2 linked regions of the Homo sapiens genome follow. The protein of the gene in region 1 interacts with the protein of each later gene in a pairwise test. Each region holds a gene or a part of one and is shown in the gene's direction. Other genes may lie near its edges.

Region 1 (7,025 bases):
GGAGTTCAGTGGTGCAATCTCCACCTCCCAGATTTAAGCAATTCTCCTGCCTCAGCCTCCCAAGTAGCTGGGACTATAGGCATGTGCCGCCACGCCCAGCTAATTTTTGTATTTTCAGTAGAGACGGGGTTTCACCTTGTTGGCCAGGATGGTCTCTATCTCCTGACCTTGTGATCCGCCCACCTTGGCCTCCCAAAATGCTGGGATTACAGGCATGAGCCACTGCGCCTGGCCTAATTAGATAATTTCTTACTTGCTTCACATACACACTGGTAAAATCTGTTTCCCCTCCTGTAAACTGTATTTAGCATAGCCACAGTGACACTTGTTTAAATGACTTAGTGTAGGGTGTTTTAGGAGCTTTTCTGTACAGAAGCTTTGAGGGCATGGTCCTTAGGTTCTCACCGCTGCACTGGCTCAGGGTGTCCGCCCCTGCCAAGGTTGGGTCCCTCTCTTCCCATGTGCTGCGAGGGTGCTGGCTGCCTGTGAGTTCTTTCCAAAGCTTCCCGGCGGAAGCCTTGGCTGCTGACTCTGCTCGGTCCACAGGAGGCTAACGAGCCGGCAGCAGAGCCTGATCCTGAGCTACGCCGAGGACGAGACAGATGTGGAGGGGACGGTGAACGGCGTCACCCTCACCAGCTCTGGTAAGGAGTCTGAAGACTACATGGTGACACGTGGGGGCCTCAGAGCCCCCCAGGGTATGGACAATTCAGGGCAGCATGTTGGGGTTTCCACTTCGGGTTCTTCATGAAGCCTTTAAAATGTGCAGTTGAAAGAGGGGGGCTGTGGGCGGGGACAGCGGGCAGGGAGCCGCAGCCCCCAGTCCAAGCTTCGCCTCCTCTCTCTGTGTGTGTTTCTGTGCTGAGGTGAGAGCACCAGGGCACTTCCTGCAGGCAGCTCTGCGTGTCTCAGACCCAGTGTTCTGAGTTCTATTCTTGGTTCTGCCACTTGCCCTGTGACCTCGGACAAATCCTTCCCTGAGAGCTCCTGGCAAAAGCGTAAGGAGAGAGCATGGATTGGAAGGATTTGTGCACTTCCCACCTGGGACACTCCGCCAGGATTTCAGAGTGTCTTAAAACAACAGCAGCCACAGCAGTGGAGCCGCAGTCAGCAGACTCCGTCCGCCGCTTTAGAGCAGGACTCCCTCCAAGTTATCTAGCCGTGAACAGATGCACCATTTACCCTGAGCTCAGACATCGTGCTAGCGAGTGGCTGTGTTAGGGATCTGTCACCAGAACACCTGCTGTGGGCGCTGAGACAATGGCACCCCAGCTGCAGCCCCTCTTCCCATGGGGTCTGGGGCCTCTTTCCTGGGACTCCTGGCTCAGGGCAGGGCAGGCTGTGCCCAGGGGTCCTTGGTTCAGGCGGCATGTATTTCCTCCTCATTGCATCATTTTGTTTTTGTTTGGATCCTGGGTGGAGTTCTCAGAACTTGAGCAGCCTTAGATTAGTGCATGGTAATTCGTAGCAGGTGTTTGGAGCTGGGGGCCGATTTTCCAATAAAGTGGAGGATTTGGAGCTCCAGGGGCAGGGGCAGGGGCTGGGATGGAAGTCCCTGGAATTTCACTGAGCTCCTGTTGCTCCCAGGGGACTGGAATTCCTCTGTTAAAAAGCAGCTGCCGGCCGGGCGCAGTGGCTCTTGCCTGTAATCCCAGCACTTTGGGAGGCAGGGGCAGGTGGATCACTTGAAGTCAGGAGTTTGAGACCAGCCTGGACAGCATGGCGAAACCCCATCCCTACTAAAAATACAAAAATTAGCTGGGTATGGTGGTGCATGCCTGTAATCTCAGCTACTCAGGACGCTGAGGCAGGAGAATCGCTTGAACCCAGGAGGCAGAGGATGCAGTGAGCCAAGACCACACCACTGCACTCCAGCTTGGGTGACAGTGAGACTCTCTGAAAAAAAAAAAAAAAAAAAAAAAAAGGGCCTGGCGCGGTGGCTCACGCCTGTAATCCTAGCACTTTGGGACGCCGAGGAGGGTGGATCACGAGGTCAGGAGTTTGAGACCAGCCTGACCAACATGGTGAAACCCTGTCTCTACTAAAAAAAAAAAAAAAATACAAAAACTAGCGGGGCATGGTGGTGGGCATCCATAATCCCAGCTACTCTGGAGGCTGAGGCAGGATAATTGCTTGAATCCAGGAGGCAGAGGGTGCAGTGAGCCAAGATTGCACCACTGCACTACAGCCTGGGTGACATAGCGAGACTCTGTCTCAAAAAAACAACAACAAAAAAGCAGCTGCCACAAAACTCTGTAGCCCAACCAGGTTCCAAATGTCACTTATTTTAATGGTTTGGTACATATACTGTGTATATGTATACTATCTTTTGTTCTTGTTGTATCTCTTGAACTAAAATAGAAGTGGTAATAGAGTAGCTATTCCCCGGAACTCTAATCAGTGCACCTGTGGCTTCTCCTTCCTCAAACCCTACAATCACATAACATGCGAGATTGGTTCCATAGACAGCTGTCCTTCCCTCCTCCCGCCCATCAGGGTAGCTTGAGGTGTGCTACGGCCGGGCCCTGGGTGGGTTCGTGGGTGTTGCTTACTCTGTTGGAGGTTGGGTATTACTGGTCACCAGTTGATGTTTTGACCCTCTCTCTGATACTGTAAGTTGAAAGTTGATTCCGCCACCCACTGAGATCCTTTGTCACTTCCATGGTTACTTGTCCTGATCACTCAGCCTCACTCAGCTGTTCCCTCACTCAGCCAGGATGTCTTCTCCTGTGTGCAAGACACTGTCAGCTCTTCCTTTTAAAGATCTTGGTGAGGCCGGATGCAGCGGCTCACACCTATAATCCCAGCACTTTGGGCGGCTAATGCAGGAAGATCACTTGAACCCAGGAGTTCGAGACCAGCCTGGGCAATATAGCGAGACTCTGTCTCTACAAAAAATTTCAAAACTAGCCAGGTGCAAAGTAGTATGCACCTCTATCACCAGCTACTTGGGAAGCTGAGATGAGAAGATCACTTGAGCCTTAGTACTCAAGGCTGCGGTGAGTCATGACAGCGACACTGTACTCCAGCCTGGGTGCCAGGGCAAGACTCTGTCCCTAAGCATACACCGTCACATGTCAGTCTGCTGCCTGTGGGTGGTTAAGTCTCTCATTATACTGTGAAGACAGTTAGTTTTGCATCCACATATGACAGTATTACAGGACATATAATTCTCATGTCCTAAGAACTTAAGCAACAGTGGGATTTATTTATTTATTTGAGGCAGAGTCTTGCTCTGTGGCCCAGCCTGGAGTGCAGTGGTGCAGTCATAGCTCACGGCAGCCTCAAACTCCTGGACTCAAGTGATCCTCCCACCTTGGCCTCCCAGAGTGTTGGAATTACAGACATGAGCCACTGTGCCTGACCAGCATAGTTTTTGATGCGTTTAGTATCTTAATGTAGCTGCTGAAAACCTTAAGAGCTGACCCCGGTCTCCCAGAAAGACCATGGTGTGCTTAGAGACTCAGCACTTGCAGGGATAAACAGGTCCATCTTCTGGCGAACAGAGAGGGAACTGGGGGGGCTTGCAATTACTATGTGACTTTTTGAGTGAGAGACACAGTATGGCTCCTTGTTGTTCTTTTTTTTTTTTTCTTTTTTTGGAGACGGAGTCTCACTCTGTCACCCGGGCCGGAGTGCAGTGGCGTGATCTCGGCTCACTGCAACGCACTCTGCCTCTTGGGTTCAACCAATTCTGCCTCAGCCTCCCGAGTAGCTGGGACTACAGGTGCATGCCGCCCCTGGCTAATTTTTTGTATTTTAGTAGAGATGGGTTTCACCATGTTCGAGGCCGGTCTCGAACTCCTGAGCTCAGGCAATCCGCCTGCCTTGGCCTCCCAAAGTGCGGGGATTACAGGCGTGAGCCACTGTGCCCGGCCTTTTCTTTTTTGAGACTGGGTCTCACTCTGTTTTATGTAGCCTCCCTCACCCCTTCCCGGGGACCTGTGGCCCCAAACTTTGGACCTTTCACTAGCGAAGGCACCTTCTTACTTAGACTGAGGCCTTTACTCTTTTATGCACTGTGCGTGGCCTAGGTCTCTGAGCACATTAAAAATGAGCTCTACAATTAACATGCCAAGTTCAGGTCTATATTCTAACTCACAACAAAAGTGTGCACTCCTTGTCTAGTAGTTGGCAAATCTGTAACACGTTTGTGTGAGAAAGTACCTCTAGATGGTGTCAGCCTGGGCCCTAAAGAAATTGCAGCACAGCTTCCCTAGGTTGAGAGCATTTAGGTTAGGTGCCCCAAATGGGGACAACTTGCTCAGGGAGATAGACTGCTGATGTGAGGGATGAGATGGAGTGCCTGTGACAAAGGATTGTGCGTGGCCGTGACTCCCACATGGGCTGTTCTGCAGGGTCTTTGCGCACACAGCAGCATGGAATCTGGCCAGTTGGTCTAGAGTAGGGTTTTTCTTGGCAGTCATTATTTACCTTCTTATAGCCAACAGCATGGTGGTTGAGTCTCAGCTTTGGAGTCAGACTGCATGGGCTCGCACTCAGTCCTCCCTCCCGCTTGTTGGCTCTGTGGCCTTGGGTAAACCCTGTAACCTCTCTGTGCCTCCTTTTTTTGTTTTTTCATCTGTGAAATTTGCCTGTAAGGAAGTGTATGGCCTGGCCTGGGAGGTGCCTGGCACTTGACTGTGTTTTTGTCACTGTTGCTCAGATAGAGACAGCTGTCATAGTCCGTCTCTATTTCTTGTTTCCCTGCTGTGGGTCCTTGATTGAAAGAGCAGTTGGGAGACCCTCAGGCTCTGAGTGGCCTGTTCACCTCAGTCGTCTGCAAGGTGAGGCATCCTGTGCCATCTTAGGAGTGGCCCCCACTCTTCTTGAGGTGGCACTTGGCCGCTTCTTGAACGTGGGCCCCTGGGTGGCCAGGCGGGGGTAGGTGGGCCCTGGGATGTGACTGTGGAAGTGCAGGCCCATGACGCCAGTTCTTTCTGCTGTTTGTGCCCAGGTGGCAGCACCATGGATAGCTCCGCAGGAAGCAAGGCTAGGCGTGAGGCTGGGGAGGACGAGGAGGGATTCCTTTCCAAACTTAAGAAAATGTTTACCTCATGATATCCCAGCCGAGGTAGGAAAACCCTGGAGGTTTTTTTTCCCTTTGTTTTCCTCTGTGAACTAATCCTGGTTTTCTCCCACTTTAACCAATATTGTGCCCCCACCCCCAGGAGTTGGAACAGGTGCCAGTCCAAGGTGTGGTAAACCTAGCTCCACTAGGAGCTGGCCTCTCAGCCTAGGGAATAGATGACGTGGCAATCAGCCTGTAGTGCAGGACTGGCTGGGCTGCCGCGGCCAGCCTCTGGCTGTGTCTTCTTCCTGGGGAGGTGGCGATGCTGGGGCTGTTGTACAGCCCCCCTGCAGTGGTGGGTCCGGCTTGCCCATGGTCACAGAGGGCGAGTCAGGCAGAGCCAGGCCTAGAACTCAGATCTCCTCACGTCCTGCCTGCTTGGAAGCTGCCCTCCTGCGTGGACAGCGCAGGGCTGTGCAAGCCTGGGGGCTGCTCCAGGGGTAGCGCTTGCTCGCCGTGTCATCTTGGGACCCACTTTGGTTTATTATGCTCATCTCAGCAAGTGGGGTTCTCGCCCCTCTCTTGGCACAGCTGCTTTCCAGGGATTAACAGACGCTCCCCACAGGGGTGTGTTCCCTTGAAATGTTGAGTATAAGGTAACAGCCTATCTCTTTGGCTCAGGAAAAAGATCCACTGGAAACTAGGCCGGGAAGCAGCAGCCCCTCCAAGGGCCAGGGCACCTGGGAGACGGGAGGATTCCAGAACAGCAGCACTGAGCTCCCACCCGCAGAGCCTCTGGACGGCCTTGGCAACAGCAAAATCATGGGACAACACCTCTCTCCACGGAAAGGTCACAGTGGACAGCCCGGGCAGTAGGATGCAGCCCCAGAGGCTGGTGGCAGTTTCCTGTCCATTGGTAGGTGACGGCCCCTGGCTCAGGCAGAGGGAGATGGTTAGACTCTTGCAGGGCTAAAACTCTAATTTGGAATTGAATATTGTGGATATCTTAGTTAAAGGCCATGCTTACAGCTTAGAAATGAAGCCTTAAGCTGCATCAAGTTACGAAGTGATTAATTTCCTTCTCAGCAAACCTCCGGGAGGTTCCAGAATGAGTTCTTCCTGACAGGTTGTCTTCACTGGGAGCGTGGGGCCCCCAGGCCCCACCAGCACCGTCCTCCCCTAATGAGGGGCCCTGCCGAGGCATCAGCTGCTCTGCTCAGTTAGTTTTTATTCCCGGGGTACCAAGCAGCTGCACAGTCGGTGCCTGGGAGGCACGTAGAGGCCCAGAGAGTCCCTGGGGGTTCTGCTCTGACCGTGTGGGTGGTGATCCTTGTCAGGATGTACAGTCCTTGCTCCCACCCCATCCGGGATGGCCGCCTGTCCCTGACTATTGAGTCCTGTTGTTGTAAGCCAGGCATGGAGGGCTCCTGCCCTTCTGCTGAGCCACAGCCCATTGCAGCACTGTGCTGGCCAGACTTCAGCTGCCTTGGGAACTGAAGCCCTGCCACTGTTGCTAGTCAGGGGCTTGGTTCTCCCACTTACACTGTTGACATCTATTTTCTGAAGTGTGTTTAAATTATTCAGTGCTAATCATTGTTTTTTCCTTTGTAAATGTTGATTCAGAAAAGGAAAGCACAGGCTAAGCAGTTGAAGGTTCCCCACCATTCAGTGAGAGCAGAACCCCCATTCCCCAGCCTCTGCTGGTAGCATGTCGCAGTTTCCATGTGTTTCAGGATCTTCGGGCTGTCGTTAGACAGGTTAATGAAGAACACTTCTCAACAGTTTCCTTTTTGTTTTCCTTTATAATTCACTAAAATAAAGCATCTATTAGTGTCTGATTTAGGAATGTAAAATGATTCTGTATTAATGTAAATAAGATTATCTATTGCAAAAAGATATTTCAAACCTAAATTGTGGTCATTTCTTCTTTGAAAGAATTCAGACAGCCTCTGCAGGTGGCTTATGGGGGTTACAGGAGACTTGGCTGGCCTCATCCTGTGCTCACAGCCACCCA
Region 2 (7,025 bases), on another chromosome or scaffold:
ATATATTTGTGAGTTCTACTAAAGAGGAAAGGAGACCCCTTTTGGAGTTTTTTTGTTCTGTTTTGTTTTTGTTTTTTAGTTTTCTCATGTTTTATCCTAATGGGTTTTGAAAGCATGATCATTTAAAATACTGTTGGAATGGGCCCATCAGTGATGTGATCTTTCACCTGTGAAAAGACAAGGGCTACTTTTGTGGCTGTATCTCCCCTATCCAGACAGGTAGGAGACCCAGCCTCTGTGGCTTTATGCCGGACGCTCATTTCCTGCCCACAGAGTTTCTCTGCCCTTCAGGATAACTCAGAGTTTGCCAGCCATTGTTGGGTCTATCCAAGGGTGTGTAGTTCACAACTGCTTCCTTCCTTTTTCCCTAGAAGGGTAAAGGTTACCCCATAAGCTAAGGGGAAAATGCCCAGCCCAGAGAGAAAAGCTAAGCAGAGCGAGCCTCTTGGATCCTGAGGGTCTAGCAGAGGGCTTATAATATCTCTTCCTATTGCCAGTGCCCCAGTTGCGCAGCTCTCTGCGTCTTTTCTCAAATCATCACCCAATCCGTTTGCCTTTTATAGAAAGTGATGGTAATGATGTGTGTAGAGTGACAGACTTCAGTTTTTACATAGAAAGACGGGATGTAGGCAGTGGGATCAGGCCAACATCAGCCTTGGGCAGCGTTTTCAGTGGGGAAGCCTCCTCATTAGAAGAGCCGGCAGCAGCTGTGTGACTGCCTCAGGCTGAAGAGAGTCCTGGGAGGGTTGGATGTCTTGTTCTCTCCTACTGGATTTCTACCATAATAATAATAAACAGATTTATTTTTCTAGTAGTTCTCATTTGACTAGACATGGATGAGGTAAATTTTCAGGAAAGGCACAACAGTGTAATGGATTTTTATGGGTAAAATGGCTATCATAAAAGCTTTAAGCTAAAACTTTAAAGGGGTTTGATAACGAGGGTACATTAAGACTTTGGTTTGCAATTATTTACTTAGGAAGGATGGAAATGTTTGCAAGTTTGAATTTGGCTAAAAGCCCTTCTTAATTGTAAAAGAATCACTTTTAGATGTTCACAAGCTGAGCTTTAGCAAATACCTTTACTGGTTCTTGAGTTGCCTCTATCTTAGTTTTCCCACCATTGTACTTTACAGCACAATTTACAATATGTCCCCACCCCCAAAAGAGCATTTCCTTTCTCAATTGTCACAAAGCTGCTGAGAAGAAGCTTATTTTTAACTTGGAAATGTGTTTTGTTTTAATAGTTTTAGCCTGAGAGCAATTATCTTACACACTTTATAGGTGCCTAATGCGGTCTTAAATCATGACTGACCAAGGTTTATCAATAAATCCATTGATAACATACCAGAAATGAGTCTGCAATAACAAAATGAGTCTGTTATTTGCTTAACATCAACCATCAGGGGGAAAAATTTAATCCTAAAAATGAGATATAAAACAATACCAATGAAGATAATTAGGAAAAATTGTTACAATACTGATTTTGGGCCCTCTCTGGTTCCGTTTTTATCTATTTCTAAAAGAAACAACATAACACATGTATTAAATATTACATAATTTTTAAAAGGCTGAGTGTGTCAACTAACCAGCCTGGTATACATCAAATAGTGACCATATTTAAAGAACAAGGAAAAATCTTCAGTCATTAATAAATGTGAACTAATAGGTAAAAAGAAGTAGATTCACTTTTCATTTGTTAGTGCCTGGTGCATAGGAGGTGCTTTATTAAGAAATAATTAATGAAACCTGGGCAGCATAACAAGACCCCGTCTCTACAGAAATTTAAAAATTAGCTGGGTGAGGTGGCGCACACCTGTAGTCCTGTCTACTAGAGAGGCTGAGGCGGGAGGATTGCTTGAGCCCAGGAGTTTGAGGCTGCAGTGAGCTAGGACTATGCCACTGCACTGCAGACTGGGCAAGAGTGAGACCCCCATCTCTAAAAGTAAATAAGTAAATAATGAATGAATGAATGAATGAATGAATTATTGGCAGATATGTGTTCCAAAACCATCTATATGTTTCATATTATGCTAGCTGCTGAATGCAACTGGGCAAACACTGGATACCAAATGAGGTATTTTTACTGTGCAACTTTTGTCTCTGGGTGGGGAATACCATAGCAACCAGAATGTAGTGCACGCAGCCAGTGCACAGAGCAAGGCGTATAATGGCTGGACCTTGGCTTATAGAGCACATGAAGGAGTTTGATAAGAGCTCAGTCCGAAGGCTGATGAAGAGTTACAATCAGAGTTATGAGCAAGTAAAAGTCTGGGCCCAACGTGTTTCTACTCCTACCCTAAAGAGCCCTAGAAGATGAATTCACTTCAGAATGGCCCAAAAAGGGCCAGGTCCAATGGCTCATGCTTGTAATCCTAGCACTTTGGGAGGCCAAGGCAGGAGGATCACTTGAGCCCAGGAGTTTGAGACCAGCTGGGCAACGTAGTGAGACCCTGTCTCTAGAAAAAAAAAAAATAGCCAAGCATGGTGGCCCACGCCTGTGATCCCAGCTACTCAGGAGGCTAATGTGGGAGGATTGCTTGAGCTCAAGAGGTTGAGGCTGCAGTGAGCCATGATCACGCCACTGCACTCCAGCCTGAACAACAGAGCCAGACTCTGTCTGAAAAAGAAAAGAAAAGAAAGAAGGAAGAAAGGAAGGGAGGGAAAGAAAAAGAAAGAAAGAGAGAGAGAGAGAAAGAGAGAAAGAAAGAAAGAAAGAAAGAAAGAAAGAAAGAAAGAAAGAAAGAAAGAAAGAAAGAGAAAGAAAGAGAAGGAAGGAAGCAGAGAAAGGAAAGAAAGAAAGAAAGAAAGAAAGAAAGAAAGAAAGAAAGAAAGAAAGAAAGAAAGAAAAGAAAGAAAGAACGGAAGGACTCGAAAAGCCCCTTTATTCCTACCAAGCTGCATCTGCTCTTTGTCCCATCTTTGGATCTCCTGAAAACAACTTGTTTCATTAACATGTCATGTAGTTTTAATGTTTGTTCCAGATGCTCTGAAATTTGTGACCCTTTTCCCTTTAGTGAAAATTAAATTTTTACTAAATTGTGGGAAAATGAAAGAATTTCAGACTATTTAAGGATATACATTTTGTTTGTTCGTTTTCCATATATGTGAAAAATTATAATATATTGGGTTTTTTTAAAAGTTCTATGTTGTCCTTGTAGGTTTTCCCAAATAGTGCACCCCTTGAAGGAGGGACAAGGCTGACCATATGTGGCTGGGACTTTGGATTTCGGAGGAATAATAAATTTGATTTAAAGAAAACTAGAGTTCTCCTTGGAAATGAGAGCTGCACCTTGACTTTAAGTGAGAGCACGATGAATACGTAAGGATCTTAAAATGCTTTGCTGGGGTGTGCTTGGAAAATAGGTTTTGTTTTTGAATGAATATTTCTTTTAAAATTGCTCAAGAAGCTCATCTCTTGAATTAAAAAGGGTCTTGGCCTGTCACATGCCTTGTGGGTCTGTTCTGTTTTGTTCTTGTAATCCCATTTACTCATTGGATTTGAAGAGAGAGAAAGGTGACATGGCCTAGGTGAAGAGAAGAGGCCAGAAATGGGAGTTTCTCAACCATTTATGCGACAAGTCTTCAGGTGTTGTCTGAGTAGATTTGCAAGAGTAGCACTAGTTGGGATCACTTCATCCTTGGAGTCTTCAAATGTAGAGTCTCCAAAGGCTTTTTCTACAGAAATCAGTAAACAGCTCAGCATGGATCCTCTCTTTTAAATTCACTTTCTAAACCTCAGAAATGTAGTGAGGCAGCTGAATCACGTGTTTGAGACTTTTTTAGATGAGTTAAAATTTATATTCAGCTTATATTTACTGGCACTGCAATATATGGGCTGTATCTCACTGAACCATCCCCACGGTCCTGGGAGGGAGCAGTATCATTCCTATAATATAAAAGAGGTACCTGAAGTTCAGAGAGATGAAGTGTGGCTTCACAGAGGTAATCCAGAGAGTAAGAGCTGAACAAGCCTTCAGCTCAGCTCTGATCATCTTCTGATCCAAGACCCGTGCTAGTTCTACTGTATTCTACATGTACCCTTCTACAAGCTTTGAATTCCATAATCATCAGAGAATCCAGAAATTATTCATTATCACATAATAACAACACTCAAATATTTAAAGTTTTATGGTTGAATCTTTATGATTGAACCCATTCTATCAGGTGGTTATTTTATATCTAATAGAATTCATTTCAGGGTTACACAAAGGTCCGAATCTATCCATTTTACTGAGACCAAAACACTAATGAAGGTAATATTTGTTAGCTGAATGGCAAAACAAATTTTTTCTAGAAATCTCCCTTGTAAAATCTCCAAAACTCTTAATCATTGCATATAAATCAGGACCTGTAAAAGTAAAGCATAATTCATTCTCTCCTTTAAAAAGTTATTTAATAAATCAAATTGTATTTAAATTTTCTCAGAACTATATGATTATTCATTCAGAAATAATTCTATGGAAAGCCATCACAATTTCATTATCATTTAAGTAATTTAAATAAGCATGTACAAGTATAACCACAGAAATGTACCTGTTGACATACTTTAATGAAGAGATTGGCCTATTTGTAGTTAGCCCATTGTTTCATATGCATCTGAAGTGGACCAAAGATTATCCCCAAATATTAATATTATCCAAACTTAGATTATTATGCACTATTCAACTGGTGAGGTCTTTATGGATAAGGTCTGATATTTCCTGTTTGTCTGTATAAGTGCTATAGTACCATTAATGTAAAGTTTAGTATAAGCAGGGTGCAGTGGCTTACGCCTGTGATCCCAGCACTTTGGCAGACCAAGGCAGGAGGATCACCTGAGCCCAGGAATTCAAGACCAGCCTGGGCAACGTAGTGAGACTCCATCTCTACCAAAAAAAAAAAAAAATTTTTTTTTAATTAACCAGATGCCGTGGCATGCACCTCTAGTTCCAACTCCTGAGTCCAGAGGATCCCTTGAGCCCAGGAGTTCAAGGCTGCAGTGAGCTATGACTATGCCACTGCCCTCCAGCCTGGGTGACAGAGCAAGATCCTGTCTCTTTTTACATAAAAATAAAAGTTAAGTTTATCATAGTATAGAAATAGGATTATATAATTTTTGGCCTTAATGCTTATCTTGAAACTCTGCTTGCTATTCAAAGCAGTCAGCTCACCATTTAGAGTTAATGTCACTTCCTATAAAACAACCTAACCAGAAAATTCCTTGGATTTGTCATGTATTAAACTTTGGGTTTTTTTTCCAGATTGAAATGCACAGTTGGTCCTGCCATGAATAAGCATTTCAATATGTCCATAATTATTTCAAATGGCCACGGGACAACACAATACAGTACATTCTCCTATGTGGTAAGGAAGATTCTATCCTATCATGTTTGATTTTTACTTAATCTATTTAAATTATAAGATGAACAAGTTACTTTGTTTTGTTTTTATCTCCCCTCCAGGATCCTGTAATAACAAGTATTTCGCCGAAATACGGTCCTATGGCTGGTGGCACTTTACTTACTTTAACTGGAAATTACCTAAACAGTGGGAATTCTAGACACATTTCAATTGGTGGAAAAACATGTACTTTAAAAAGGTGTTGTAAATTTATTTTTTGTTGCATCTGTCAATTTGAATTAATATCTGTACCTTAAAAATTAAGCAGATTGTTTTGTGTGTGTGTGTGGAGAAGAAAAATCAAGATGTTTATTTGTTTACTCTCCTACTGACAAAACTTCCTCCTTCCAAAATTCATCTACTCCTTTTGCTGATTTTTCTTCCTTTCTCTTGTTTTTTAGCAATCCTACTTTTCAGTTTTGTCTTCCCATCCACCCTCTTTATTGTTATAGCTTAGGATCTTAGCTATACTATGAGCTGTGAGAGTCTGGTCATTGATAATAATTTAAAATAAACATTTTCATCAAGATTTGTAATTAGACTAAGTCACTCTGGGGAAGGAAGAAATGGGGAAAATTGGGTCTGGAAGACAGTTATGTTTCTGCTTCTTAGAGTTGGAAGAGCTCAGTTTAATCAAGTACCAAAAGTACTTTAAAGGTTTTTTTTTCAAATCTCAAATGTTTTCCAGTCAAGGATAGCTTGTCCACAACAAAGGTAAGTTTGAGATCCAGTCAGATTAAACAGCCTACACTAGAAAAGGCTTCCACTCAGGAAATTCCCACTTAGGAACCATTGAGTTATATCCTTTTGATTTGTGGATATAATTCTAAAATATGTGTATCTCTAATAGCTAAAATTCACTTCCTTAATTTTTTTTGTTCAGTGTGTCAAACAGTATTCTTGAATGTTATACCCCAGCCCAAACCATTTCAACTGAGTTTGCTGTTAAATTGAAAATTGACTTAGCCAACCGAGAGACAAGCATCTTCAGTTACCGTGAAGATCCCATTGTCTATGAAATTCATCCAACCAAATCTTTTATTAGGTAAGTAGAAGCTTCTGATGGGTATAAGAAAACAATGAATACAAGGATGATTTTGCTGTAGAATAGTCAAGAGGAATTGCAGTTTTATCTCTGGCTTTGATGCTGTTATGTTGCTTTTGAAGGCTTCTTTCCAATTCAGGAGAGAAAACTATATTCAGGTTCTGAGTGTAGTTTGACTTATCAATGCTAGTTCATTCCAAGAAGTATCTTATCCTGTTCTATTACATTTAAACAGAGTATAGCAAAATAGTTTAATGTGGCATTGTAGTATACATGCACTTACATTATGTACATATCAATTCTATACTAACCTTAGTGCCCAGAAGTGGAATTACCTTTTTTCTTCCATTCTCTAGATATGTTTTTGTCCTGCCTGCTTTACACACAGCTTTTCTTTATGCCAGACTCTCTTTGAATTGATATCTCATTGGACCCAGTTCAATCTGCCTTGTTTCCGTTAATTCTATCAGTCTAGCAACAATAGTTAAGTTCGGTTTTCTTTGTATTTTTTTCAGAGGTGAAATATTTATTTTGTGTAATTCGGTGAATAAAATACAAATGCATTTCTTAAGCTTATGAAATATGCATTTTAAAAATAT

What was found. Proteins that work in one complex are often made in the same cells at the same time.
Region 2: the proteins of DNAJA3 (region 1) and MET interact in binary tests that used the Homo sapiens proteins (3 or more experiments, as listed by UniProt).

The regions. Positions count from the first base shown.
Region 1 is NC_000016.10:4,449,854-4,456,878, forward strand, and holds the end of DNAJA3 (dnaJ homolog subfamily A member 3, mitochondrial), read left to right. Parts: intron 1-546; coding exon 547-644; intron 645-4,957; coding exon 4,958-5,061; 3' UTR 5,062-5,074; exon of another isoform or gene 5,075-5,075; intron 5,076-5,692; coding exon of another isoform or gene 5,693-5,715; 3' UTR 5,716-6,922; downstream 6,923-7,025. UniProt on the Homo sapiens protein: Modulates apoptotic signal transduction or effector structures within the mitochondrial matrix. Affect cytochrome C release from the mitochondria and caspase 3 activation, but not caspase 8 activation.
Region 2 is NC_000007.14:116,752,195-116,759,219, forward strand, and holds part of MET (hepatocyte growth factor receptor isoform b preproprotein), read left to right. Parts: intron 1-3,160; coding exon 3,161-3,321; intron 3,322-5,242; coding exon 5,243-5,345; intron 5,346-5,443; coding exon 5,444-5,580; intron 5,581-6,264; coding exon 6,265-6,426; intron 6,427-7,025. UniProt on the Homo sapiens protein: Receptor tyrosine kinase that transduces signals from the extracellular matrix into the cytoplasm by binding to hepatocyte growth factor/HGF ligand. Regulates many physiological processes including proliferation, scattering, morphogenesis and survival.